Linked DNA regions of Homo sapiens: regions 2, 3, 4 and 5 are each reported to be linked to region 1. The links are microRNA targets in miRTarBase. Many come from high-throughput screens and were not tested one by one. Region 1 holds a microRNA gene; each other region holds the end of a gene's coding sequence.
What was found. The annotated mature microRNA hsa-miR-4651 reads CGGGGUGGGUGAGGUCGGGC and lies in region 1 at 2,788-2,807, shown strand. An mRNA with a match to its seed (bases 2 to 7 or 8) in the 3' UTR can be bound and repressed. Matches are read on the target gene's strand: a 7mer-m8 pairs with bases 2 to 8, a 7mer-A1 pairs with bases 2 to 7 and ends in A, and an 8mer does both.

Region 1 (5,101 bases):
TAGAAATACAAAAATTAGCCGGGTGTGGTGGCACAAGTCTGTAATCCCAGCTACTCAGGCAGCTGAGGCAGGAGAATCGCTTGAACTCAGGAGGCAGAGGTTGCAGTGAGCTGAGATGGTGCCCCTGCACTGCAGCCTGGGTGACACAGTGAGACTCCATCCCCCCCAAAAAAGTCAGGAAGCTGCTGAGATCATCCAGGTGAACGGTGAACCCACGTGGCCCCAACTGGAACAGGGACAGCAGAAAAGATGACAAGAGGAGGTTCTGGAGATAGAATCCATAGGACCCAGTTATTGGTTCAATGGGAAAAGGCCAAAGAGGTAAAATGCCTGTTTCCTGATGTTTCCTTAGTGATGCTATATTATTAGCAGACAGAGAAGACTCAGTGTTTTAGGAGTTCTGGTTTCAAAAAAAGCAGGGGGCATGGAGTCAAAGTCCAAATTTGAAGCCTCACTGGGACATCCTGGGGAGATGTCCAACAGGGTGTTGAAAAGATGGCACAGAGTATCAGATATCTGGGTGAATTTCTCCACAGCTCTCTCTCTGGGTGAGTGTGGAGTTCAGTCCCTTCTTTGGACAGGTATTGTGCCCCACCCTGAGGGCTACTGCATTCATCCAACCTGTTGGAGGGACTGGTTCCTGGACATAGGAAACCTGGCACCTGGGCCATGGTAATAATCTCTTTATATAGGATTTTGCTATTTTCACAATATTTTAAAGATGAAGAGTGGATGGGAATGGTGGCTCACATCTGTAATTCCTGCACTTTGGGAGGCCGAGGCAAGGGATCCCTTGAGGCCAGGAGTTCAAGACCAGGTTGGGCAACATAGCGAGACTCTGTCTCTACAAAAAATTTAAAAATTAGGCTAGGTGCAGTGCTCACACCTGTAATCTCAGCACTTTGGGAGGCCAAGGTGGGAGGACTGCTTGAGGTCTGGAGTTTGAGACCAGCCTGGGAAACATGGCAAAACACCATCTCTACAAAAAAATTTCAATCAACTTTCTTTAAAATGAAAAATAAAAATACAAAAATTAGCCAGTTGTGGTGGCGCATGCCTGTAATTCCAGCTACTAGGGAGGCTGAGGCAGGAGGATCACCTGAGCCCAGGAGGTCGAGGCTGCATCCCAGCCTCAGCGACAAAGGGAGACCCTGTTTCAAAAAATAAGTAACATATATGTTATTATATAATATATATTATTTATATAATATATAAATATAACAAATATAACATTTATATAATATATAAATGTTATATTTATGTATTATTTTATAAATTAACTTTTTTTTTTTTGTGAGACGGAGTGTCACTCTGTCGGCCACACTGGAGTGCAGTGGTGTGAACTGGGCTCACTGCAACCTCTGCCTCCGGGGTTCAAGTGGGTCTCCTGCCTCAGTCTCCCCAGTAGGTGGGATTACAGGCACCCGCCACCATGCCCAGCTAATTTTTGTATTTTTAGTAGAGACGGGGTTTTGCCATGTTGGTCAGGCTGGTCTCGAACTCCTGACCTCAGGTGATCCGCCCACCTCAGCCTACCAAAGTTCTGGGATTACAGGCGTGAGCCACCGTGCCTGGGCTATTTTTAAAAGATGGAGAAGGGGCTCTGAGAGAAGTGAGTTGCACAGTGTTGCAAAAGGAATTCACAGCACAGCTAGTAATAATAGTAGTAGTAGTAATAATAACAATGGCGATGAGAACACTTAGTAATGCCGTGCTCTAAATCCTTTAGGAACAAAGGTTATACCACTTAATCTTCATGACCCTGTAAAGTAGAAACCATAGCAGGAGGCAGAGGTGGGCTTCACTCCCCAACCAAGGCTGCCAGACTTTTCAAACCCCAGAAGCTCTCTGTATCCCCCCACTCCTCTTCCATCCAGGGCTTGCCTCCTGCTTGGTCACTTCCCACCCCCAACAGGCCGGCCTTCAAAAGCGAGCTCTAGGCAGCGTGTGGGACCTCACGCCTGTAATCGCAGCGCTTTGAGAGGCCGAGGAGGGAGGATCACTTGAGACCAGTTCGAGACCAACCTGGGCATCATAGCGAGACCGCATCTCTGCAAATAAAATAAAATAAAATTAGCTAGGTGTGGTGGCGCGCCTGTAGTCCCAGCTACTGGGAGGCTGAAGTGGGAGAATCGCCTGAGCACAGGAGTTGAAGGCTGCAGTGAGCTGTGACTGCACCACTGCAATCCAGCCTGGGCGACAGAACGAGACCCTGTCTCTAAAAACAAACGCGCGCCCTCCGCCGTCAGGCTGGATGGAGGGAACCCAGGGAGACGACTTGGGCCTGAAGCCTCGCCAATTTCAGGTGAGGAAACAGGGCCGTGGAGGAGACAATGTGGCGATCACAAGCAAGCGGCGGCCCGAAGGAGGAGGCTAGACCGGCGGGCGCACAGCCACAGTTCTGCAGTGATCCCCGGGAAGGTGGGCAGCCGGCCCGGTGACCTGCAGGGTCCGAGCTGTAGAAGCCGCAGCCGCCGTCTCCAGGCGACTCCGCCACCCCCGGAACCACGCACTTTCATTTCTCTGCCGGGCGACCCAGCCGAGCCGCGAGGGGGCGTGGCCGGGCCGGGCCGTACCAAGAGCGCAAATTTGCAGGGGGAAGCGCGGGGCTCCGGGAATGCACGCGCGGCTCGAGTGGGCGGGGCGGCGGCCCAATGGCCACGCCCCCACCCCCGCGGCCGGCGAAGGCGGTGGTAGCGCCTCAGTGGTGTGGGCCTGAGCCCTGCCCAGGTGCCCGCAGAGAGCAGCCGGGCTGCCAGCGGTGAGTGCTATCTTTCGCGGCGACGGCGGGGTGGGTGAGGTCGGGCCCCAAGACTCGGGGTTTGCCGGGCGCCTCAGTTCACCGCGGCCGCCTGGCTCTCTGCGTCGGGGTGGGCCCTCGGGCCTGGGCACTGCGCGTCTGGCCCGACGCTCGGGCGGAAGGCATGGCTCCCACCCCGGCCCTCCTCCGCGTCGCCCTTCCCCTAGAGCTGATCTCCCGCGGCGGCCTGAGGGTCGACTTTTCCACAGCTTGGGCCGAGAGAGCCCGGCAGGCCCTCGGCTGAGGGTTAGGGCTCGGTATCTCAGGGCTCGGGGTCCAGTCCCCGCGCCGCCGCCCCCCACGGGCTAAGCCACTTTAACTCTCCGAGCCTCAGTTTCCCCATCTGTACGATGAATGGGCCTCGGGAGGCAGCGAATTCTGGGGGTACCTAACGTGAGAGGCGCTCGATGCATGCTCATGGGACCCGAATCTAACCCTGCAGCATCAGGTGGGCTGAGTCGATGGATCACGGGAGCCCCCCAGCCCGGCCTGCATCCCTGAGGGCAGTGCCCCTCGCAGTCAGGTGTCTCGGCGGCCCCCACAACACAGGTACCCGGATCTCCTGGGGGAGCCGGGACACCCTTAGATCGGGGGAGCAATTGGGTAAGAGTTCAAGGTCTCTTGGGCGCCAGGGGGAGGAGAGTAGAGGTTTCAGTGAGCTTGATTGACTTCGACTTTCTGCGTATTGTTTTTCAAAACGAGTTACCCTTGTGTAAACTGGTGACCACTAATAAGGAGTTTGGGGCTGTTTCAATGAAAGTGGCTGTCTCCTCTCTTAAACCCTTAAAGCTGCAGCCTTGCCTTGCCTTGCCTCTGAGCTTGGCCAAGCTGGAGAATGATGCCAGCACAAAAGGAGACAGGACTGGACTGGGTGGCCCTGGTTTGATTCTTGGCAAGCAAGATACCTCCTGGAGCCTCCGTTTTCTGATCAGTGGGTCTGGTAGTAAGACAGCCACCCTGCTCTCCCCACAGGGTTGAGATTCTGAGGATCAAGACAGGGTCCCAGAGAGTGGCATCGAGAACTTTAATCCTCCTTGTAAGCAGAACGTTTATGGAACCCTCTGGGGGATCCAGTATCCCCACCGTTGTTCACTGCTGTAATTCCTTGGGTCTTGCTTTATGGAGAAGGCATTGATTCATTAACCATTTGCAAGTTCTACCTACGGAAATCCCTTTTGAGTGGTTATGGGGTTGGCTTGGTCAGGAGAACAGCTCCAAAGGCCCAGTTAGTAAACCAGGGAACCCAGAAAGGTCCACTTCCTTTTTTTTGGGAGGAGGGCTGTTTTAGGAGTTCTTATTTTCCTTTTAAGAGAGTGGTTTTTGAGCTACTTATGACCTTCATGCCATCTAATGTTGGAAACTTTCGCTGAGCAGATAGCTTATTATAAAAAGTATTTGTACAACATCCGCATTTCAGAGAATGGGATGCTAGCTGCCAGTTGCGTGGTGGTGTGGAAACTTAGGAGTGATCTTAATTTTCCAAAATTCTTCAGGTCTAGCACTTGAAGAAATAATAGGTAGATTTGAAATGAAACAACCCAGGGATATTCCTGAAAACAGCAGCATTGACCGCAGCCAATGTAAATCAGGTGTGGATCGTCCTGGGTAGTAGGAGTTTATAAATGCCACAGAGGATGTTTGCTGCCAGACATACCTGAATTTTAGGACCTGCTGTTGGTTAACTCTGGGTTGATCCACCCTTAACCCCTTGAAAATCAGAATCTGTGTTAGGTAAGTCTGTGTATGATTAGGAGACAGGCCAATTGAAATCAAAACTGCTTGGCAAATCCAGAACATTTACTCGTGAAGTCCATGGAACATTTCAAGTTAAAAATAATTTAGCTTTTAAGTAACTTTTTTTTTTTTGTGAGACAGGTCTCACTCTGTCGTGCAGGCTGGAGTGCAGTGGCGCAATCATAGCTCACTGCAGCCTCAACCTCCAGGATTCAAGCAATCCTCCCTCCTCAGCCTCCCAAGTAGTTGGGAGTACAGGCACGCACCACCACACCCAGCTAATTTTTTAAATGTTTTTTAGAGATTTGGTTTGCCATGTTGCCCAGGCTGGTCTCGAATTCTGGGGTTCAAGTGGTCCTCCTGCTTTGACCTCCTAAAGTGCTGAGATTACAGGTGTGAGCCACCGTTCCTGGCTTTCTTATTTCTTCTTCTTTTTTTTTTTTTTTTTTCTGATGGAAGCTCTTGAAGTTATAGGACCTTTCATGGTTCCAGAGAGGCTGGCCGCCCCTACAAGAGCTTCGATGTCCTTGTGCTTTAGGGAGGAGCCAGAGAAACAGAGGTCAAGCT
Region 2 (5,101 bases), not on the chromosome of region 1:
GCTGCAGGGATGCAGTGGGGCCATCACCTGTCCCTGTGGAGGGAGCCTCATTTCCTGCCACCCTGTGGCAAAAGCTGGTACAGGGTGGGGTGCTGAGCTCCTGCACCTTGCAGCCAGCCCCGCCTGGGCTGTGTGACCTCAGACTAAAGGGACCTACTGTTCGTGGCACTGTTTTCTCCCATGGGAGGGGTCCTGTCCCTTTCCCTGAGCCTCCTGAGACATCCCCGAGATGGGGCCAGAGGCGGCCCAGCTGTTCTCCTCAGCAATCACCCTCACCTCTTTTTTTACCCTCTAAGAATTTTTATCTGATTACCAGCCAGGTGCCGTGGCTCACACCTGGTGCTTTGGGAGGCTGTGATGGGTGGATCACTTGAGGTCAGGCGTTTGAGACCAGCCCGGCCAACGTGGTGAAGCCCCATCTCTACTAAAAATACAAAAATTAGCCAGGATGGTGACGGGCGCCTGTAGTCCCAGCTACTCAGGAGGCTGAGGCAGGAGAGTCGCTTGAACCTGGGAGGTGGAGGTTGTAGTGAGCTGAGATCGTGCCACTGCACTCCAGCTCGGGTGACGAGCAAGACTCCGTCTCAAAAAAACTTTTTAAAATCTGATTACCAAAAATTACGTGGCTGTTTTCTGAAAATCTTGTTGCAGAGATGTGTAACCTGCAAGTTCTCCTTAATTTCAGAGGTAACTATTACCAAGCTGATATATATACTCCTTCAGACTCTTGTATGAACCATAGTATGCGTATTTCTTTTTTTTAAAATTTTTTTTTGACGGAGTTTTGCTCTTGTTGCCCAGGCTGGAATGCAGTGGTGTGATCTCAGCTCACTGCAGCCTTCGCTTCCTGGGATCAAGCGATTCTTCTACCTCAGCCTCTCAAGTAGCTGGGATTACAGGTGCCTGCCACCATGCCCAGCTAATTTTTGGGATTACAGGTGCGAGCCACCATGCCTGGCCACGTATTTCTTTATAGAAATGGCATTATACTATATGCAGTCCTTTATGGTGATCTATTCATAAACTTTTTTTTTTCTTTTGAGACTGAGTTTCACTCTTGTTGCCCAGGCTGGGGTGCAATGGTGCAATCTCAGCTCACTGCAACCTCCGCCTCCTGGGTTCAAGTGATTCTCTTACCTCACCTTCCTGAGTAGCTGTGATTACAGGTGCGAACCACCATGCCCAGCTAATTTTTCATATCTTTAGTAGAGACAGGGTTTCTCCATGTTGGTCAGGCTGGTCTTGAACTCCCGACCACAGGTGATCCACCTGCCTCGGCCTCCCAAAGTGCTGGGATTATAGGCGTGAGCCACCGCCCCCTGCTTTAAACATTTTACATAACAAATTTTTCAGTGTTTATTTCTAAAAAGTGATGTTAAAGCCAGGTGTGGTGGTTCATTCCTGTAATCCCAGCACTTTGGGAAGCTGAGGCAGGGTGGGTCGCTTGAGCCCAGGAGTTCATGACCAGCCTGGGCAACATAGCAAGACTCCATCTCTATTAAAAAATACAAGAAAACTAGTTTAAGTTTAGCATAGTGGTGTGTGCCCGTAGTCCCAGCTCTCTGGGAGGCTGAGGTGGGAGGATCACTTGAGCTGGGGAGGTTGAGGCTGTAGTGAGGGAGAAAGCGGGACTCTGTCTCAAACAAACAACCATAATGCAATAATACACAAACCAAATTTACTAAGTATCAAGGAATATCCAGTGTTGAGATTTCTGCTTGTCTGATTTAAAGTTGTGTGTTTTGTTCCGATTTGGTAATTCGGATCCAAAGTCCATACTATCCGATATGTCCTTTGAGCCTCTTAATCTAGAGCAGCGACCGGTTCTCAATGCTGAGCGGTTGGGGATCCCCTGGAAGCCCTGTGAAAGCGATGCTGGGCCCGCAAGCAGGCGGGGTGGGCCTGGAGCTAGGCGTTTCTCCCACATGCCCCGGGACGCTGCTTTGGAACTGTGCCGAGTCCCCTGCATGCCAGGCCTCTCGTTTCCTTGTGGTTTATCTGCTGAAGAGGGCAGGTTGTGAGTCCCACGGGTCTCTACAATGTCAACTTTGCTCATTGCAGCCCTCTGGGGGCTTTGAACTCATGCCTCTGTTGGGCGTCCATCAGCCCATCCGATGCAGGCAGAAGCCATCTGACTGTGCCACCTGGCTGCAGCCCACCATAGCTCCCAGCTGCTTGCTCCAGGCGCTTCTCCCTGATCTCAGCCACTCCAAGGGCACTCACAGGCACCCCTCCCTTTCTCTGTCAGGGCTCACCCCTCGCAGGGCTGACCCTCTACCCTGTGTTCCCACAGCCCCGTGCGCCAACCTGTCACACACATCCTGTGGTTTTACACTTCTGTCACTGACAGGAGCCTGCTGGGGACAGGTGCTGGCTCCACTCCCTCCTCCAGCACCCTGTCTCAGAGTGTACTGAGGTGACGATGGTGATGGCGTGGTCTGTTCTCTGCCTGACAGTACATTAGGTGCCACAGACCTGCCCCACTGACCATGGAGGATGCCCTGGAGGAGGTGAACAAGGAGCTGTGAGCGCCAGCAGGTGGAGCTTGACGTGACGTCTTAACAAAAGGTATCCCGTCCTGTGTACTCAGTGCACACACACGCACACAAACATAGAGCTCATCAGTGTCCAAGTGTGACGTTCCGTGGTGGGGGCAGGTGGTACTGGGGTGATGGACACACACACACACAGTCAGCATCCAGGTGTGACATTCCATGGTGGGGCAGGTGGTGCTGCGGTGAGGGCCCCAGACTCCTCTGAGCCAAATCCCAGCTCAGTGACAGCTCTCCCAGCAGCATGCCCAGCTCTATGACACCACAGGCCAGTGGAAATAGAATTTCAGTGGAGCTGTCCCCACTCACAGCAGGACAGGGGCCACCAGCCTCTGCAGAGCAGCTCCACCCAGGCAGGTCCTGGCATCCCAGTGAGCCAGAGGGAGACAGGGTGGATGGGAGAAGCCCTGCTCGAGGGTAAGGACATGGGACCAGGTCAGCACGCTGGGGACGCCATGTGAGCCCCTGGACACGGCCTCTGACCCCAGGCTGCACAGCTCAAACCAGGACATGTGTCTCCTCACTCAGCCCGTGCACACTTCTGACTTACACATGTGCGGGAGAAAGGTCTTTAAAAAAAGGCTTTATTTGAAGGCAAAACAATGAAATCCACAAGAAATTACTAACAGCACGTGTTTACGTTTTATCCTGAATCATACATTTTAACAATTCACAGCTACAGGAAATCTAGAACAAAATCAAATATTCATCACGTTGGGTTGAAAAGTTGGAAGATTTTGCATCTTATTGAAAAGAATTTTTCAAAAATGTTTCTGTACAAATGAATGGAATTGCACCAGGCTGCCCATGGACACCAGGTGTGGCCGATTCCCAACGGTCACCCACCAGCTTCTGGCAGGAGCAGCTCCCCTCCTGGCCTCCCCTCCCTTCGGGGGTGTGAAATGAAATGATGGAGTGGAAGGCGCTGGCTGGGGTCGGGCTCCATGCTCTGGATGGGACTGGGCCGTCGCACACGCCAGCCGGTGCAGGGTTCTTCCAAGTGCAAAACTCAAGCAGGGGACGCGACGGGCACAGACTCCGAGGCAGCGCTCAACCTGAAGTGTCTTAGGCTGGTTTCCTGTTAGAATCTTGTTTCCCAGATAACAGCAAATGGCTACATTCCAGAAAAAAAATATCAACTTATACAACTAAAATAACTGAACTAAGGGCCAGTACGCCTTCGAAGAATTAGGTTTCAGAATCTCACTGGGCCTCCTCTCAGGTCAGTATTCTTCTTTCTAGACCTAAACCAAGGAGAGTAAAAATGAAAACCCTGCTTCACTTCGCAAGTCAAGTCAAAGTTTTGTGTTTCTGTTTTTCAATCCGCGGGCAGTCATGGCACTGGGCTTCGGCTTTGTCCCTACACAGCCGAGGGGAAGCCAGGTCAGGGCCGGTGGGTGCGGGGAGCTGGAGGAAGGAGCTGGGGTGCCGGCTCTGGCTCAGGCCAACCCTTCCTGCACATGCTCCTCCTGGAGCCTAGGAGGAGGCTTCAATCTGACTTAGGGCAGATGCACATCCATCCCTTCGTGGCTGAAGAATTTACTCGGGCGGAGGGTCTTGTGTTTTTTGCTTCGCTATAAAGGAAAACGAGCCTGGGGCCCTGGTGGCTGCAGCGCCTCCTGGTGTGGTTTGTGGGTGGCACCCGTGCCCTCCACGCCATGGAGCACGGCGTTCCCACTGGGCATGCGCTGGTCTTCCTTCTCTTCCTGTGGCTCTCCACAAGTGGAGACGGTGTAAGAACTGAGCTGTCACTGCAATCTTCCTCTGCCAGTCAGCCAGGAAGGTCCCACAGCCGGCACCGCTGGCCACCGGCGCGGCTCCCGGCATGGGCGCCTACTTACACTCGTCCCTGGCCTTCATGCGGGCGATGAAGGAGTAGCTCTTGTTCCTGCGGTAGTTCTCATAGGGGTCATCCAGAGCCACGCCCACGCCTTTATACTGGTCCCACTTATCCCGGACGTCCCCGCCCTTGATGGGGTCCTGGATCCCTTGCTCCTTCGCACCGAGGCCGCCTGAGCCGCTCCAGCCTGGAAACAGAGACGCAGTCACAACCACAACAAGGCGGAGGCAGATGGGGGTGCACGTGGGGGGCTGAATGTCCAGACAGGCAGTGTAGACATGGGAAATGGGTAGAGAGAACCCGCAGGCCGGCCCTGTCTAGAGGGTCTGGGTGGAGTCAGAACCGGCCTGACTCCATCCATCCCCACATGCACTGAGGAAGAGAAAGCGCTGGTGACTCCCGGGCCCAGCACGCGTGAGGACCCATCCCGCGCCCTCCCCATTCCCTCGCCTTACCCATCTTCACCAGCATCTGATGGCCTTTGTTCTCTTCTCCGAGCCTTGAGTCAGGGATGGGAGGCGCCGAATTAGAACCCAGACCAGCAGAGGAACTAAAATCGAGACAGGTTATTCTTTTTAAGAAGTAACTGAGACATTTATTGGAATGACAGTGATGAGGACCTCACAGCCGCAGCTTGCGTGCATGCTCACTGTCACCAGGTGACACCGTATGCAGATTTTGCGTCTCTACCCGTTTATCCTGTCTCAGC
Region 3 (5,101 bases), not on the chromosome of region 1:
CTTGCCTTCTTCAAATAGCTACACATCCACTTTCAGGTTCCTTGGTTACTTGTGACTGTGGAGGAGAAGGAGGAAGGAGAGAGAAGTACCTGAGGAGTGGGGTAAGCCCAGAAGGAGGTCTCTTAGAACTGAACTAATAAATACCCCCTTAGTTCCCAGGAAGAGCCTTGCAGCAAGGAAAACCATGTGTTTGGACCCTTTTGCCCTGGTTTCTGCTGTGGAAGGCCACAGGAGCAGTGTACACAAGACGATGGGAAGAGTGTATAGAGCACACAGCTTGCTATTTTGGTGCAAACACAGGAGCCAATGTTTAACATCAGCCAGGGTACATTTTTGTCACAAAGCCCCTTGCTTATACCTGGAAATTGTCCTCATCAGAGCAGGATGGCTTTGGGGACATTGTGGATGAGGGCAACCACAGTGAGACCAGGTTATTTTCTCTAGCTCATCTTACTCCCATATTCTAAAAGAAATCATTGCCAGTGAATGGTAGCCACACTAGTTTTTTTAAAATGTTGAAAAGCCATCTCAGAAAGTTAGGATGAACAAAGCTATTGTTCCACTCTTTCTTTTTCTACTCTGGAAACAAGAAACATTTCCCTCAGCCTGGAAAGACCAACCATTATGAGATGACACAAGGTGAACTGATGGAGAAAATCAATCTTCCTCCATTCCATTTGGGCAAGGCAAGCATTCAGTGGGGGGCTATTCAGAGGGCTCCTCACGATGGAGCAGTGATCTCCTGAATCAGATGGACAAGGCCAGGGACCCCATTGCTCCTATTGGCCCTCAATGCCTCACTCTCTTCAAGGACATCTGCAACCCATGTGGATGGGAACCAGGTGAATGCAGGGAAAAGGGGCTGTATTAGGTTGCTGGGTGGATTTCCCACTGAGATCAGGGCAGCAGCATGTGGCTCCAAGATGCAACATGACCCTGAGAAATAACTCTCAGGAGCCTAATGGAAGGCAATACTACTTAGTGGGAAAAGGCCCTGGAATAAGAGCCAGGAGATGTGGGTTGTAAACCCAATCCTGCCCCAGCCAGCTGTGTGACCTTGGGGAAATTACTTTACCTCTGTGTCTCGGTTTCCTGGCCTGAAGAATGAGAAATTTGGAGTAGAGGAGTAGATGATGTGATCTTAAGGTTCCTTCCAGCTAGAAAACGCTATAATTCAATCTAGGCTAATACTAAAGTCCATAAGGACACAAAGCAGTCATGCTAATGGCTATCCTTTCCAAAACAGTGAAGAGAAAAGGAGCTTTTCTCTCAATTTACCCCTAGTTAATACTACTTATGAAGTTAGTTGTTCAGCCCAGCCCCAATATATACATTTTCCCCTTCTTTGTCCCTATTTCTATTTCTGTAGGGAAGAAAAATCAGGAGGTAGGAACAAGCAAGAGATGGATTGTGTGTGTGTGTGTGTGTGTGTGTGTAAGAAGGAGGGAGAAGTATAGGGAGTGGTGGCAAATGCTTGCTGACTTGATGTTTGTTGACCGTGCAGAAATTAACACAATGGAACTTGAGTGCTAAAATTGGATTGGGTAAAATTGGAAGTGAATGACAGGGGTGGAGGAGCTCAGTTACAGACACACAAAAAAAATTGCCTTGAAAGTGGGCCAATTTAAAATGCAATTAATTATTGGAGACTTAAATTTTGGACTATGCCAAGCCTCATCCCCTGCTCCCTCCAAAATGGCCATAAAGAAACATTTCCTTATACTCGATTAAAAGTAAGATGGAAGATGTACTATTGTTATTGAAGATTGTTGGTTCAAAGGTTATCCTAAAGAAAATATATCCATTTGGTATTTTCTAGTAGTACATATACCGCAATCAAGGAAATACTCAGAGAGCTAGTGTGAGGCCCAAGCATAAGGAAATCTGGATTCTTCCTCTGGTCCTGCTCTTTACCAGCCTCCACTTCCTCAACTTAAAATAAAGGTGATGGACTAAATGAGACCTAAAGTGAGACTATGGGTGGAGTCATTGGGGGTTCTGGCCTGAAGTTTAAAATCAGGCCTCCCACCATTCTTTATGCCCACACCCCCTAATCCAAGTATCACTTTTTCCCAATTAACTACAAAATGTTCTGGGAGGCACTAAGAAAACCCTGAGCTTCTAGAAAGAAATAGGGGCTTAGTAAAATGGGCTTATTAATGGTTTTGAATGGGTCTACAAAAAAAGGAGAGGGGGCAAAAAGAGATCCTCATCATTTGGGGTTCTTCAATTTCACCAGAAACCAGTACTACCATCATCTCACTTTTCCTGAACCGAAAATGTTTCTGGTAGCTACAGACATCTGAAGCTTGTCTAGGGGCATCTGAGCTACCCCACCACCACTGGGTTCCCCCCTACACAGTGCACATCAGCAGTGCCACCCAGTTGCCACCAATCCATTACAGGGGTGTCCTGTAGTATTTCCTAATTTTGAAGCAGCTGCAGATGCACACACACACACACACATGCACCACCCCCTCCCACCACCACCACACACACACACAGCAAGCTCATTCCATTTAGAGTGGAGGAACAACTGCAAGCCATTCAGTAGCCAAACAGCAGCTTGGCTTCGAATGCTGTGCCTTTCAAAATATCTGCACAATTACAAAGAAATAAGGAAATCTTCATATCTGCTAAAAGCAAACACAGAATTGGCATGCATGACCTTCACTTAAATTTAGTTGTCTTTGCCATTATGGGCTATGATTACAGAAAAAAAAAAGCAGTGTTATAAACCTGTATCTCAAAAGACTGAAAACTATTTCAAATGATCAGTCCTTAGTAAAGAGAAATCCTTTCTAATGTTAAAGACAAGTGAAAGATTTCTGTGTCTTCAGTATGAAATATTAGGATTATAGATAAAAAGAGTTGCTTAAAATATGCTGTAACATTTCATTTAAAATATAATTAGAATGTCTGGTCCACATTGAAATTATTAATGCAAGCATAACTGTTAAAAAGCTATCAAAAAACTGATTCTATTGAATTGGCCTCTGCTATTCATCTTGTTTTCTCCTGGAGGTTACTGTTTGGCAGTGACAGCATAATTTCTAAACTACATTATTCTTCTGCTTTTTTTTTTTTTTTTGGTAAATTTTCTTCATGTGTTTTTTAGACAAAAGAAAAATCACCAGTTTATAAAAAAGGAGCCTGAAGAGTTTGCTCCTGAAATACAGACATGAATTTTTATAAAAAGGATATTGATTTCTTGCTATAAAAAGAGACTGAAAGGTGTCAGACCTGAAAACAAATTCTCACAGTGTTTTCAGTGTTGGCTGTTAACAAGGCATTCAATAGAACAGAGATAGATGGATACCATACAGTTCATGTAATCATGTGGTATGTTAGACAGCCTTCTAGAGGAATCAGGTATATGAAGTCCCTTACTCCAAACTATTATCAATTGCTTATTGATTCCAAATTGCCTCAGTGGAGAGATTGACCAGGAATTCACTGTGCTTTATAAACTCTTCGGAAATGTCTGCAGTATTTTCCAATTCTGTCTATTCTCTTAGCTAACCCAGCACCAGGATCCTAAGCATCTGGTGTCACAATTATAAGTTGTTGGTTTATTTCTCCCCATTGACAGCCAGAATTGGTGCTGGACAACAAACCCGGGCCTCAATCAGGAGTGAAGAGTGAGGCTGGGGAGCTGCCTTGCTGTCCTTCCAGGGTCCTCCACCATTCTTGAGATCCAGAGAAAAGGGGCACTTGTGTTTGTCATTCTTGGATCTGCCAATGAGTTTTTTTTTTCCCACACAAACATTTTAAGTGCTGTATATGTAAACAGCCCTCTACAGAAGGAAGACTGTATGGGCAAAATTAGACAGGGCAAATATAACGCAGGCACCTAAGCTTTCCATTGAAAGGTCATGGACTAGCACATTTTGCATCCCTGGAATGCTGCCCCAAAGGATGGTTATCAATCTATCTCTCATAATTGGTAACTGTGGATCAGTGGCCCAGAGGAGAAATCACAGGAAAATAAACCCAACATATTACAATGTGTTTTTCAAAATAACAACAACAACAAAATAAAAACTTGAAAGCACCAATAGCCCTGTTGGACACTTGAGCAGAAGTACCCTACTACAATGATAGGCTTGGATTTGTACTCTGGACTCTGAGCACTCTCCCCTCCTTTACATGGAATCACCAAGCGAGTCCGAGTCATCCAAGGACAGAGGCAGGTACAGGTCCTATAAGAAGAGAAGAGACAAAGTTAATTTTCCTTTTCTTGATATCTTGAGCTCTGGAATGTCTGCTTTAGTTTTTTTTATTAATACTTTAATTTTTACAACATAATAATTATAGATTCACAGGAAGTTGAAAAAATGTACAGGGAGGTACCCTTGTACCAATGTACCCTTCATTCAATTTTCCCTAATGGTACCATCTTGCAGTTTAACATGTGATCATTTGTGTGTGGGGTGTGTATGTGTGTGTGTGTATATTCCTATGCAATTTTATCATGTGTGTATATTTGTGTGACCATCGCCACAGTCAAGATACAGAACTGTACCTTCAACACAAGGCTCCCTTGTGCTACCCCATTAGAGCTCCATCCAACCCTCCCCTCTTCCCTGAGCCCTGGCAACAAATAATCTGTTTCCTGTCTCTGTAATTTTGGAATTTCAACAATGTTATATGAATGAAACCATACAGTATATAACCATTTGGGATTGGCCATTTTCATTCAGCATAATTCCCCGGAGACTCATGTAAGCCATTATATGTATCAATAGTTTGCTTCTTTATATTGCTGGTGTAGATGCACCACAGTTTGTTTAGCCATTCACCTGTTGAAGCACACGTTGAATGATTCAAGTTTTGGGCTATTGCAAATAAAGCTGCCATAAACGCTCCTGTACTGTACAAGTTTTTGTGTGATCATACATTTTCATTTCTCTGGGACAGACACCCAGGAGTAAAATTGCTGAGTCATATGGTAATTCCATTTTCAGTTTTGTAAGGAATGCCATATTGCTTTCCAGTGTGGCTATACCATTTACAGTCTCACCTCCTGCCAGCAAAGTATTAGTAGTTTGGTTTCTCCACATTCTCTCCAGTATTTGATGTTTTTATTATTTTTCATTTT
Region 4 (5,101 bases), not on the chromosome of region 1:
TGTGCGCTGGACTATATTGGTGGATTATATCGTTCCCATTTTACAGCCAATGAGCAAGTGGAGGCTCAGACAGTTAGAATAGCTCACCTCAAGGTCCTGCTGCTGCTCAGCATGGAGCTAGGCTTGATCCCTGGTCTGCATGGCTTTAGAGCCTGGGGTCAAGGTGGCTGCCATGGGATGCAGGGCGTGCAGTCAGCAGGGCCTCTCAATTGCCCAAGACCTCAGGCAGATTTTTTTTTTTTTTTTTTTGAGACAGTTTCCCTCTTGTCATCCAGGCTGGAGTGCAGTGGCACAATCACTGTAACCTCCACCTCCCGGGTTCAAGCGATTCTCCTGCCTCAGCCTCCTGAGTAGCTGGGATTACAGGAGTGCACCACCATGCCCAGCTAATTTCTGTATTTTTAGTAGAGATGGGGTTTTGCCATGTTGGCCAGGCTGGTCTCGAACTCCTGACCTCAAGTGATCTGCCCACTCTGGCCTCCCAAAGTGCTGGGATTACAGGCGTGAGCCACCGCGCCTGGCCTTAGGGAGATGTTTTACCTACTGTTCCTGAACTTTGCAATCAGGAACGTGGGCAAATGCTCCCAAGAGGGTCAGCAGCAGCCCTGGAGGCAGAGTTCATGTTCCAAAGGCCGTCATAGTTGCCCAAGGCTGCCACCACAATGGTCATGCTGTGGCCAGCCCCTGCCCTGGCCCCTCCCCAATGGCATCCCACAGGCCCAACAAACTTTGTCCTCATTTCCTCTTAGGTATCTATGGCCGTTATCCTGAATGGCTGGGGCAGGGATGGGTGTGGGGAGGCAGGCTGGTTCAGAGTTTTGGGGATGGGGAGGTCACCCATAGGCTGGCGTCCCCCATCCCTGACAATTGGCCTGCCGAGAGATGGGGAGGCTAAGTTGTCCAGATGGCTGCCCTGGGTGAAAATGATGCCTCTGGAGGGCCTCATGTGAGATCTGTTTCTTTCTGTCTCTTCCTCCACAGATAACCGGGGGCTCCTCTCCCCAGACCAAAATGAATTGCAAGTTGCCACAACCTATGGTGGGGTCTCGAGGTCCTCACAGTTGCCAGCCCTGCAGCCCCCTTCCCCAGGAGCAAGGACCAGTTGGGGCGACTCCTTTGAAAGTCTGTCTGCACCTTGAAGCTGAGGGTGTGGCCTGGAGGCACCAGAGGGGCAAGAGAATGTTCCGGAACTCCAGTTCTGAGGGGTCTTGAAGGCCCTGAGCCACCCATTCTGAGCAGCCGTAAAGGACATGTAGACTTGGGGGAGGCCTGCCCCAGAGGGAGGGCAGGGGCATCGGAACTGGATGAGAGTGTGGGAGGTGGATGCGGGAGGGTGCACCTGTCCCGGGCGCCGTGGCCTCTCCCACCCCTCCCCTGATGGTCTTGTTCTCTTGTGCTCAGGCCAGAGACTTGCTCACTTCCTGCATTGTTGTGAAGGGAAGAGTTTGGGCTGCCTCCCCTCCTCCCGTCCACCCCAGAGGGGAAGTTCCTCAGCCAGACTCTTCAGCCAAATGCCCCAACTTTCAGTCTGTACCCCATCCCAAGCATAGCCAGCTCCCCCTCCTTCACCTAGTGGTCAAGGCCCGGAGCTGGAAAGCCGGGTTGGGGTGGGGTGGGGGTACTGACGCCCTTCCCAGCTCATCCAGGGGTGGAGCCTGGCCTGTCTTCCTCCAACCTCCCCCTTTTTCGTTGTGCAGCCTGGCCCCCCAGGGACCCCAGAGGGCCAGGGCGCTAGATGCAAGGTGCTAGACCAATGGGCTGCAGTATTATAGCCCCCAGGCCTGGCAGGCATGCGCTGGGCTAGAGAAAGGTGTCCGCCAACCTCCTCAGTCTCCCAGGCCTGGGACAGGCAGAACAGGGTGTGGCTGGGTGTCAGGCCTGGGGTGGGTAAGTCCTGCGATGTGGACACTGGAGAAAGTGGATCCTCTAAACTGCAGATTGTCCCCAGGTCACCAGGGCTGTGTGCGTGTGCATGTTTGTGTGCATGTATGCGTGTGTGCATGCATGTGTGTGTAAGTATGTGGTATGTGTGAGCACGGGTGTGTGCTTGGGTGTGTGTGTTCTTGCATACATGTGTGCGTGTGTGTGCACGTGAACGCGTGCGTGTTTGTGTGTGTGCATGCATGTGTGTGCATGTGTGTGTGTGCATGCATGTGTGTGTGTGTGCATGTGTGCGTGTGTGCACACTCACGTTGGGTGGTGTTTGGTAGGTTTCCCTCCAGGTCTGGTAGGGACTGGGCTGTTGCGTGATTCTGCGTGGATCGGGGGTAAGAGAGCTCACCTGTGTCCCAGCCCTCTGATGGTGGTGAGACCAGGGGAAAGGCCAGCTCAGAGGGTGGTCACAGCATGTGTCCTCTGACGTATGCCCCCAAAGCTCTCCAGCCAGACTGAGGTCACAGATGTGGGAGAGTCCCTGATGAGCCCGCTGACACGTGTGCGCCCCTTTGCACCCCATGCAGAGGTGCTCTCCTCCTTTCTCAGCCATGGCCCCCCATCCCTGACCTCAGCTTGGGAAGCAGCTCCTGCTGGGAGCATGGCCTCAGCCCCCAGCATCTCCTGGGGCCCCCATGGCTGGGGCAGGGGAAAGAGAGCCCTCAAAGGCCTCTTTCTGGTCTGTCTGGGGGTTCCCATTCCCACACATGTGCCCAGAGTAGGGGGCATGGAGGAGATGGTCCCTGTCCTACTGCAGGACACTGAGGGCTTGGCTGCCTGCCACCGCCATCTGGAGCCCACCACAGCTCTTCTCCCTGTTCTCTGGGCCTGAGCCTGGGGCCACCCCCAAGTGCCGACTTGTTTCTCCCAGAGCCCCAGGTGCTGCCCCTTCTCTCCTGTTCCTCGTCCGTTTACTGCCGCAGCCCCTCCTGGTTCTTCTGGTGCTGGGGTGGAGCAGGCTCTGTGCTCCCACCACTGTACCCCGAATCCCTCCTGCAGGCTCATTGCCACTTTTGTAGAGAATGTTCTCTATCAGTATCGTACCTGTCTTGTCCTTTAATGCTTTGGGGATAGAGTGAAGAGTGGAAGGGTGGGGGTGGGGGCGGGAGGGGGTCTGCTCTGCGCTTGTGAGGACTGGGTCCTATTCTCTGGAGTGTCTTCGAGACCCCATGCTGTGCATCTTTGCAGGGATCCCTAGGCCTTTACCTGCTCTCCTAGCTCAGCCCAGAATTAGGAGCTGGTGGAGAGGCAGGGCTGAGAACTAGGGCAGGAGAGTCCCCCTGAGCAAGGAGGATGGCTGAGCCTCCAGGCTTGTTGCCAGGGCCTGCAGCTACGGAGGGCAGGAGGATGCATGTTCTCTCTTCCCACCAGTGCCTACCTGGGTTTTTCCAGAGATGGGCAGAAACATACTCCAGGAGGCTGCTGCCTGTCACCTGGGCTCTGGGCCTCTGGAGGGGTCTCCATGAGGGCCCTCCAGAGGCCCAGAGGGGTCTCCATGTCCCTCATCACCGCAGGCAGCTCGTGGGCAGCCTGATTTGAAGCCCTGCTTTCTCCCAGGGGTGAGTCTCCTCCATAAGCTGGTGCCTAGTGGGCTCTGTTTTCTCAGTCAGGTCTGAGGAAGGGCCCTGGAGTCATCTTGCTCCATTGCCTAAGCTGCTGGGCCAGTTTCTTCTGCCAAAGGGAGTTCAAGACAGTTCCCTTCCCTCAGCATCAATCAGAAAGGTCCCCAGGATGTTGGTGCAGGAAGGTTGCCTAGCAACCATCCAGGGGTTCCAAGCCACCTCCCTCCACTTTACAGATGGAAAAACTGAGGCCCACAGAGGGGAAGAGTCAGACCCAGAACGCGGGTCTCTGGCTGCTGCCATGCTCTCCTCACACTCAGGCTGCCAAGGGCGCTAACACAACAGGATTCCACCAGCCATGCCCTGGGGGCGCACCTCCCTGCGGCTTCTTTGGCCATCCTGGTCACTGCACCCACCTCAGGAAAGACTCACTGGTCCTTGCCGCGATGGTCCAGAAGAGGACACGGGTGAGGAATGACAAGACAGAGAGCCGAGGGGCACTTTGGCATCCCAGCAGAGATGAACCAGAGGCAGCAGGATGAGGGGCTCCATGGGTCAGTGTGGCTCCAGGGCAGAAGCCTGGGGTGCCAGGAGCAGGAGCTGCTCCAGGGAGCCTGTGGGGATGTTCAACACAAGCAAAGAGGAGAAAATATTACATGGTAGGGGCTCAACTTTCATGACTCATTTCCCTAAAGATTTAGATCAAGAATAGGGACATTTACGAGGTCAGGAGATCGAAACCATCCTGGCTAACATGGTGAAACTCTGTCTCTACTAAAAATACAAAAAATTAGCCTGACGTGGTGGTGGGCGCCTGTAGTCCCAGCTACTTGGGAGGCTGAGGCAGGAGAATGGTGTGAACCCGGGAGGCAGAGCTTGCAGTGAGCCGAGATTGCGCCACTGCACTCCAGCCTGGGCGACAGAGCGAGACTCCGTCTCAAAAAAAAAAAAAAAAAAAAAAAGGGACGTTTTAGCACTTTGGGAGGTAGAGGTGAGTGGATTGTTTGAACCCAGAAGTTCCAGACCAGCCTGGGCAACGTGGCAAGACCCTATCTCTACAAAACATTTAAAAATTAACCTGGTTGGTGGTGTGCACTTGTGGTCCCAGTGTATGCGAAATTGGTGGGTTCTTGGTCTCACTGACTTAAAGAACGAAGCTGCAGACCCTCACGGTAAGTGTTACAATTCTTAAAGGCAGCATGTCCGGAGTTTGTTCCTTCTGATGTTCGGATGTGTTTGGAGTTTCTTCCTTCTGGTGGGTTCGTGGTCTCGCTGGCTTCAGGAGTGAAGCTGCAGACCTTCGCGGTGAGTGTTACAGCTCTTAAGGTGGTGCATCTGGAGTTGTTTTTTCCTCCCGTCCAGAGTCGTTCATTCCTCCCGGTGGGTTCATGGTCTCGCTGGCCTCAGGAGTGAAGCTGCAGACCTTCGCAGTGAGTGTTACAGCTCATAAAGGCGGTGCAGACCCAAAGAGTGAGAAGCAGCAAGATTTATTGCAAATAGTGAAAGAACAAAGCTTCCACAGTGTGGAAGGGGACCCCAGCGGGTTACCAGTGCTGCTTGGACAGCCTGCTTTTATTCCTTTATCTGGCCCCACCCACATCCTGCTG
Region 5 (5,101 bases), not on the chromosome of region 1:
TACTTCTTTTCCTCAGCCTAATAAGACTGATGATTTCTCCTTGGGTTCTATTTACCCATGCCATGATATAGAAAATCTACTTAGGGAAAAAGCAGGGGTGAATGTGAAGCTACTTTCTGTGTTTCACCTCTATCAAAGACTGTGGCACTTCAAATACTGCTTTTATTGGTGCTTTCTAGTTCTTTAAATTATTGTTTGAATATATTTTATACAACTTTTACAGTGTTTTTGATGGGAAGATTGGTTTTTTACAAGCTACTTTGCCATGGCTTAAATGGGAACTTCCTAGTGTTTTATAATTTATTATTATTATTTCCTTATTCAGGGCTATCAGGAAGGATAACGTATACTCCAGAAAACCTTTGCAGAAAACTGTTCTTACAACATGAAGGACTTAAGCAATTAATATGTGAAGAAATGGACTCTGTCAGAAAGGGCTCACTGATCTTCTCTAGGAGCTGGTCTGTGGATCTGGGCTTGCAAGAGAACCACAAAGTCCTCTGTGATGCTCTTCTGATTTCCCAGGACAGTCCTCCAGTCCTATACACCTTCCACATGGTACAGGATGAGGAGTTTAAAGGCTATTCTACACAAACTGCCCTAACCTTAAAGCAGAAGCTGGCAAAAATTGGTGGTTACACTAAAAAAGTGTGTGTCATGACAAAGATCTTCTACTTGAGCCCTGAAGGCATGACAAGCTGCCAGTATGATTTAAGGTCGCAAGTAATTTACCCTGAATCCTACTATTTTACAAGAAGGAAATACTTGCTGAAAGCCCTTTTTAAAGCCTTAAAGAGACTCAAGTCTCTGAGAGACCAGTTTTCCTTTGCAGAAAATCTATACCAGATAATCGGTATAGATTGCTTTCAGAAGAATGATAAAAAGATGTTTAAATCTTGTCGAAGGCTCACCTGATGGAAAATGGACTGGGCTACTGAGATATTTTTCATTATATATTTGATAACATTCTCTAATTCTGTGAAAATATTTCTTTGAAAACTTTGCAAGTTAAGCAACTTAATGTGATGTTGGATAATTGGGTTTTGTCTATTTTCACTTCTCCCTAAATAATCTTCACAGATATTGTTTGAGGGATATTAGGAAAATTAATTTGTTAACTCGTCTGTGCACAGTATTATTTACTCTGTCTGTAGTTCCTGAATAAATTTTCTTCCATGCTTGAACTGGGAAAATTGCAACACTTTTATTCTTAATGACAACAGTGAAAATCTCCCAGCATATACCTAGAAAACAATTATAACTTACAAAAGATTATCCTTGATGAAACTCAGAATTTCCACAGTGGGAATGAATAAGAAGGCAAAACTCATTTTCTCAAAACAAAACTCCAGGAATTCTCTGGATCTTCTTGAGCTACTTTCACACTATTTACTTGGAAGGGTTGTGGATTTCCTAACTGGTCAGCTAGCACCTTTAAAGAACTCACAAGAATGGTTACTTTATTTTTCTACAAGCAGTTCTGAATAAAGAAGCGTGAGATGACAAAATATGGAAAATCCTCTCTAACTAAGATTTGAAGGAAAGCAGCCAAGGTATAAGTAGAAACTCTTTTAGACAACGAGAGTTTTCATCAACAAGAGGAAGGAGCACCAGGGTCTGGCATTTCCCACTCATCTAAGATGAGCTAAGGGACCAAGATGAAGCTCAGCAGAGTGGGATACACCCTTGGCTGGGTGTTCTGAATTCATGCCTAAGACCTTCAGTGGGATCTTGGAACAGAGAATAGAGCCTAAATTACCCATCAGGGCCTCAGCCTTCTCCACCACTGTGTCCAATGCCAGAGGAAGTCGATCAATGCATTCAGTATTCTGAGAAAAGTTTTACTAACACATATTTTGCCAAACGAGATGATGTTTGACTATAAAGGAAATAGGCAGACATTCTTATCAAAGGATATAGGGAACGGAACGTAGTTCTCTTCTACCTTCTTGAAAACTATGTTACAATGAAATCCAGCCAATGAAGAGATGAATCAAAATGAAGAACCTAAAACGAGAGCATACTTGCACTCCTGGAGTCTCTCTCCAGCCCTGAACTGTGGCCAGCACAGTGTGTCAGCCTGTACCAGCTGCCGGTATGGGTGACCTGGGCACAGGCAAGGCCATCATCATCACACACTGTGTGCACCAGAACTCCTCTTGGCATCTCCAAGCCAGTTCACCATTGTGTGAACTGTGCACTGAAGGAGCTCCACTGGGACTCAGAGGCCTTGGCACAACTGCAGCTGTGGAACATTGCGATGAGGAAAGATTGGGAAAATGACAAGAGCCCATTGTCTGGAATTCATAGGTGCATTGATTGTCTTCAGTATCACCAGCCCAGCCCCATTTGAAGCAGAGCCAAAGTGGAAAAATGATTTGGACTAAACGTTAACTCATGGCAGACCAGTTTCTGTGGTTCTGTTGGCCAAGAAATGTGACCATGGGAGGATGAATGCAGAAACAGCAGCCTCAAGATGGGCCAGATCTACATGGAACATAGTTTTGTAGGATAAATTGAAACATCAGCAAAAGAAAATGTGAACTTTGATGAAGCCTCCAGGTGCCTGGATGCCAAATAGACAAATACAGAATATAAGAAAACACAATAAGAGTCATTGGCCCCGTGCCTATTTGGCATCATTGCAAGAAACCTGGGGTAGTAATAGTGGACGTATTTAGAGAGTGAGGCATAAGCTCACCTAAACAGCCTAGAAAATGTTTACTATGAGAGTAAGAAGGAAGAACACAAGTGGATATACGAGGAGTCCTTGCAATCTGGCCCATCAGTAAGTTTTTCATGTGTGCATCATTAGTCAAGAAAGTAGATCTGAAATTTTGGGGGGTCTTTAGTATAATCTTGGTGGAGTTGTAAAGTGGATTAAAAGTCTGAATTATATATATATCAAAGTGGCAGGTCTGGCAGTCATATTGTTGAACAGTGTGGCTGATACATTAATAATGTATGTGTACATTCGTGTATGTGTGTATAACCAAGGGGAAGGGGTGGTCATGGTCAGAGATGTAAGACAAGAGGTCGGCGGGGGGAAGCTTCAGGGAGTGGTAGGGGAGGGCACTGGGGAGCGAGTGGGTCAAGGAGTTGACTAATAGGAAACAACTACCTCCAGGAGAAGGCAATAATCTCCATTACTTTTTATTATTTTATTTTTTTTTTTAGGGACAAGGTCTTGCTCTGTTGGCTGGGCTGGATTGCAGTGGTGTGATCATAGCTTACTGCATCACTGAACACATGGGCTCAAAAGATTCTCTCACCTAAGCCTCCTGAGTAGCTAGGACTACAGACACCACCAACTCACCTGGCTAATTTTTAAAATTTTTGTAGAGATAGGGTATCACTACGTTGCTCAGGCCGGTCTCAACTCCTGGGGTTAAGCAGTCCTCCCATCTTGGCCTCCCAAAGGGCTCGAATAGGCAAAATTGAGCTGTTTAATGAGAAGCAGTGGGGATAATTATCCCCTTTCATAATGAGGTTCTATATAACAAGTCTTAATCCTTGAAGGGCCTATTCTAACTTAAATTGTGCCATATTAACTATTTTAAAGAGGGATTTATAGGGTCCCATTTTATCAAGCCATTTTTTAAGTGCCAAAATTTTAACTTTAGTTTATTATTTGTTGTGTCAGAGAGTCTGTGTCCAATAAGAGATACTTTAAAGCAATGGGTACAAAACTATGGGAAATTCAACCAAAGCAGTAAAGTGAGGGATAGTTATCCAAAATATTTTTTAACTTTAGTTACCTTTTTAAGATTAGAGGGCATACAATATTTAAATTTAATGAGAACCCCAAGTATAATATGTATTTTTTTGAGAAGGAGTTTCGCTCTTGTTGCCCGGGCTGGAGTGCAATGATGCTATCTTGGCTCACGGCAACCTCCGCTTCCCGGGTTCAAGTGATTCTCCTGACTCAGCCTCCCGAGTAGCTGGGATTACAGGCACCTGCCACCATGCCTGGCTAATTTTTGTATTTTTAGTAGAGACAGGGTTTCACCATGTTGGCCAGGCTGGTTTTGAACTCCTGACCTCAGGTGATCCACTCGCCTCGGCTTCCCAAAGTGCTTGGATTACAGGTGTAAGCCACCACGGCCCACTCCAAGTATAATTGGAGCCCCAGTATTGATTGAGTCCATGAAGTATGTCAGCTGGTATATTTTAGCAAATGCTAAAGTTAATTTAGACCTTATGTTGTAGAGACAAAAAATCTAATCAATGTCCTTTTATCTTTTTGTAATATAAATTCTTTGGTATATACATTCTGGATTTCTAATTGGGCCAAATTATGGACATTTGTTTTAATTTAGTTACTTATGTTATATCCATATCTATATGTACACATACAATCTATTCCTTAAGTCTATATTGAAATATTATATCGAAGGCCTGACCAGAGTGTCCGCCATGGAGTCGCAGAAAGAGGCGCGACCCCGTCGCGCGACCGCCTGGGGCCTCAAGGTCTCAGACGCCAAACTACAAGGAGCAGCGGGAGGGCGGCGCAGTGCTGGCGACGGCTGCCCTGGGAACAGAGGCGGACGACGCTAGTGCGGGCGGGCTGTGGGAGCTGCAGGTGGAGCCGAGGAGCTGAGGCCTGCGTGCAGCCGCTGCAAGCCGGCCTCAGAAAGTGTGTTTTTGTCCATTTCTCCCAGCGCACCCTTTGCATATCTCTACCTACTTGTGCATAATTCAGCATCCAGCAGAGGAAGACAAAATGTTGCGGACAGTTCCTCTACCAGCAGCATGCCTCCCCCAGGACAAGCGCAAAGTGAAGACTGGTCGTCGCTTCAGTGAAGAAAGAGATCCTGAACTTTCAACTGTTTGCCGGAAGTTTGGTACATTAATGTTATATCCAGGGGCTAATATAAGAAGCTGCTAATCTGGAAGAATTTATATTAGATTCTCCTGTTTATCCTTCTACAATCATCGTCATTGATGGTACACGGAGCCAGGCTAAGGACATTTTCTGTAAGAATTCCTTGTTCTGACACCCCCAAACAGGTGCAGTTAAAAACGAGCATTTCTAGTCAGTATGTAATTCGGATACAGCCAATTAATAGATGTCTTTCTACACTGGAGTGTGCACCTGTTG

Region 2: miRTarBase lists CHERP as a target of hsa-miR-4651. Seed matches in the 3' UTR shown: 7mer-A1 at 3,974-3,980.
Region 3: miRTarBase lists DCX as a target of hsa-miR-4651. Seed matches in the 3' UTR shown: 7mer-m8 at 1,567-1,573.
Region 4: the mRNA of USH1G is a reported target of hsa-miR-4651. Seed matches in the 3' UTR shown: 7mer-m8 at 1,364-1,370, 8mer at 1,470-1,477, 7mer-A1 at 2,448-2,454 and 7mer-m8 at 2,773-2,779.
Region 5: miRTarBase lists SLFN12 as a target of hsa-miR-4651. The part of its 3' UTR that is shown has no 7-base or 8-base seed match.

The regions. Positions count from the first base shown.
Region 1 is chr7:75,912,419-75,917,519 of GRCh38, forward strand. MIR4651 (microRNA 4651) reads left to right here and starts at 2,779; the gene lies at 2,779-2,851. POR (cytochrome p450 oxidoreductase) reads left to right here and starts at 2,737. Exons shown (of 16, transcript NM_001395413.1): 1 at 2,737-2,761. LOC124901680 (a long non-coding RNA gene) reads left to right here and starts at 123. Exons shown (of 2, transcript XR_007060393.1): 1 at 123-321; 2 at 1,878-2,076. RefSeq lists an enhancer at 2,145-2,194 and a silencer at 2,455-2,944.
Region 2 is chr19:16,514,774-16,519,874 of GRCh38, forward strand. It overlaps CHERP (calcium homeostasis endoplasmic reticulum protein), which reads right to left. Exons shown (of 17, transcript NM_006387.6): 16 at 4,848-4,942; 17 at 3,121-4,579. The coding sequence ends at 4,386. C19orf44 (chromosome 19 open reading frame 44) reads left to right here. Exons shown (of 9, transcript NM_032207.4): 8 at 2,457-2,568. The coding sequence ends at 2,528. Among named protein-coding and RNA genes, the nearest start is that of C19orf44, 21 kb to the left of the region's middle.
Region 3 is chrX:111,297,542-111,302,642 of GRCh38, forward strand. It overlaps DCX (doublecortin), which reads right to left. Exons shown (of 7, transcript NM_001195553.2): 7 at 1-4,202. The coding sequence ends at 4,146. Among named protein-coding and RNA genes, the nearest start is that of CAPN6, 30 kb to the left of the region's middle.
Region 4 is chr17:74,913,957-74,919,057 of GRCh38, reverse strand. USH1G (USH1 protein network component sans) reads left to right here. Exons shown (of 3, transcript NM_173477.5): 3 at 982-2,975. The coding sequence ends at 985. Among named protein-coding and RNA genes, the nearest start is that of USH1G, 6.7 kb to the left of the region's middle.
Region 5 is chr17:35,407,152-35,412,252 of GRCh38, reverse strand. It overlaps SLFN12 (schlafen family member 12), which reads left to right. Exons shown (of 4, transcript NM_018042.5): 4 at 326-1,331. The coding sequence ends at 915. It also overlaps the pseudogene LOC729839. Among named protein-coding and RNA genes, the nearest start is that of SLFN12, 23 kb to the left of the region's middle. RefSeq lists a silencer at 3,989-4,202.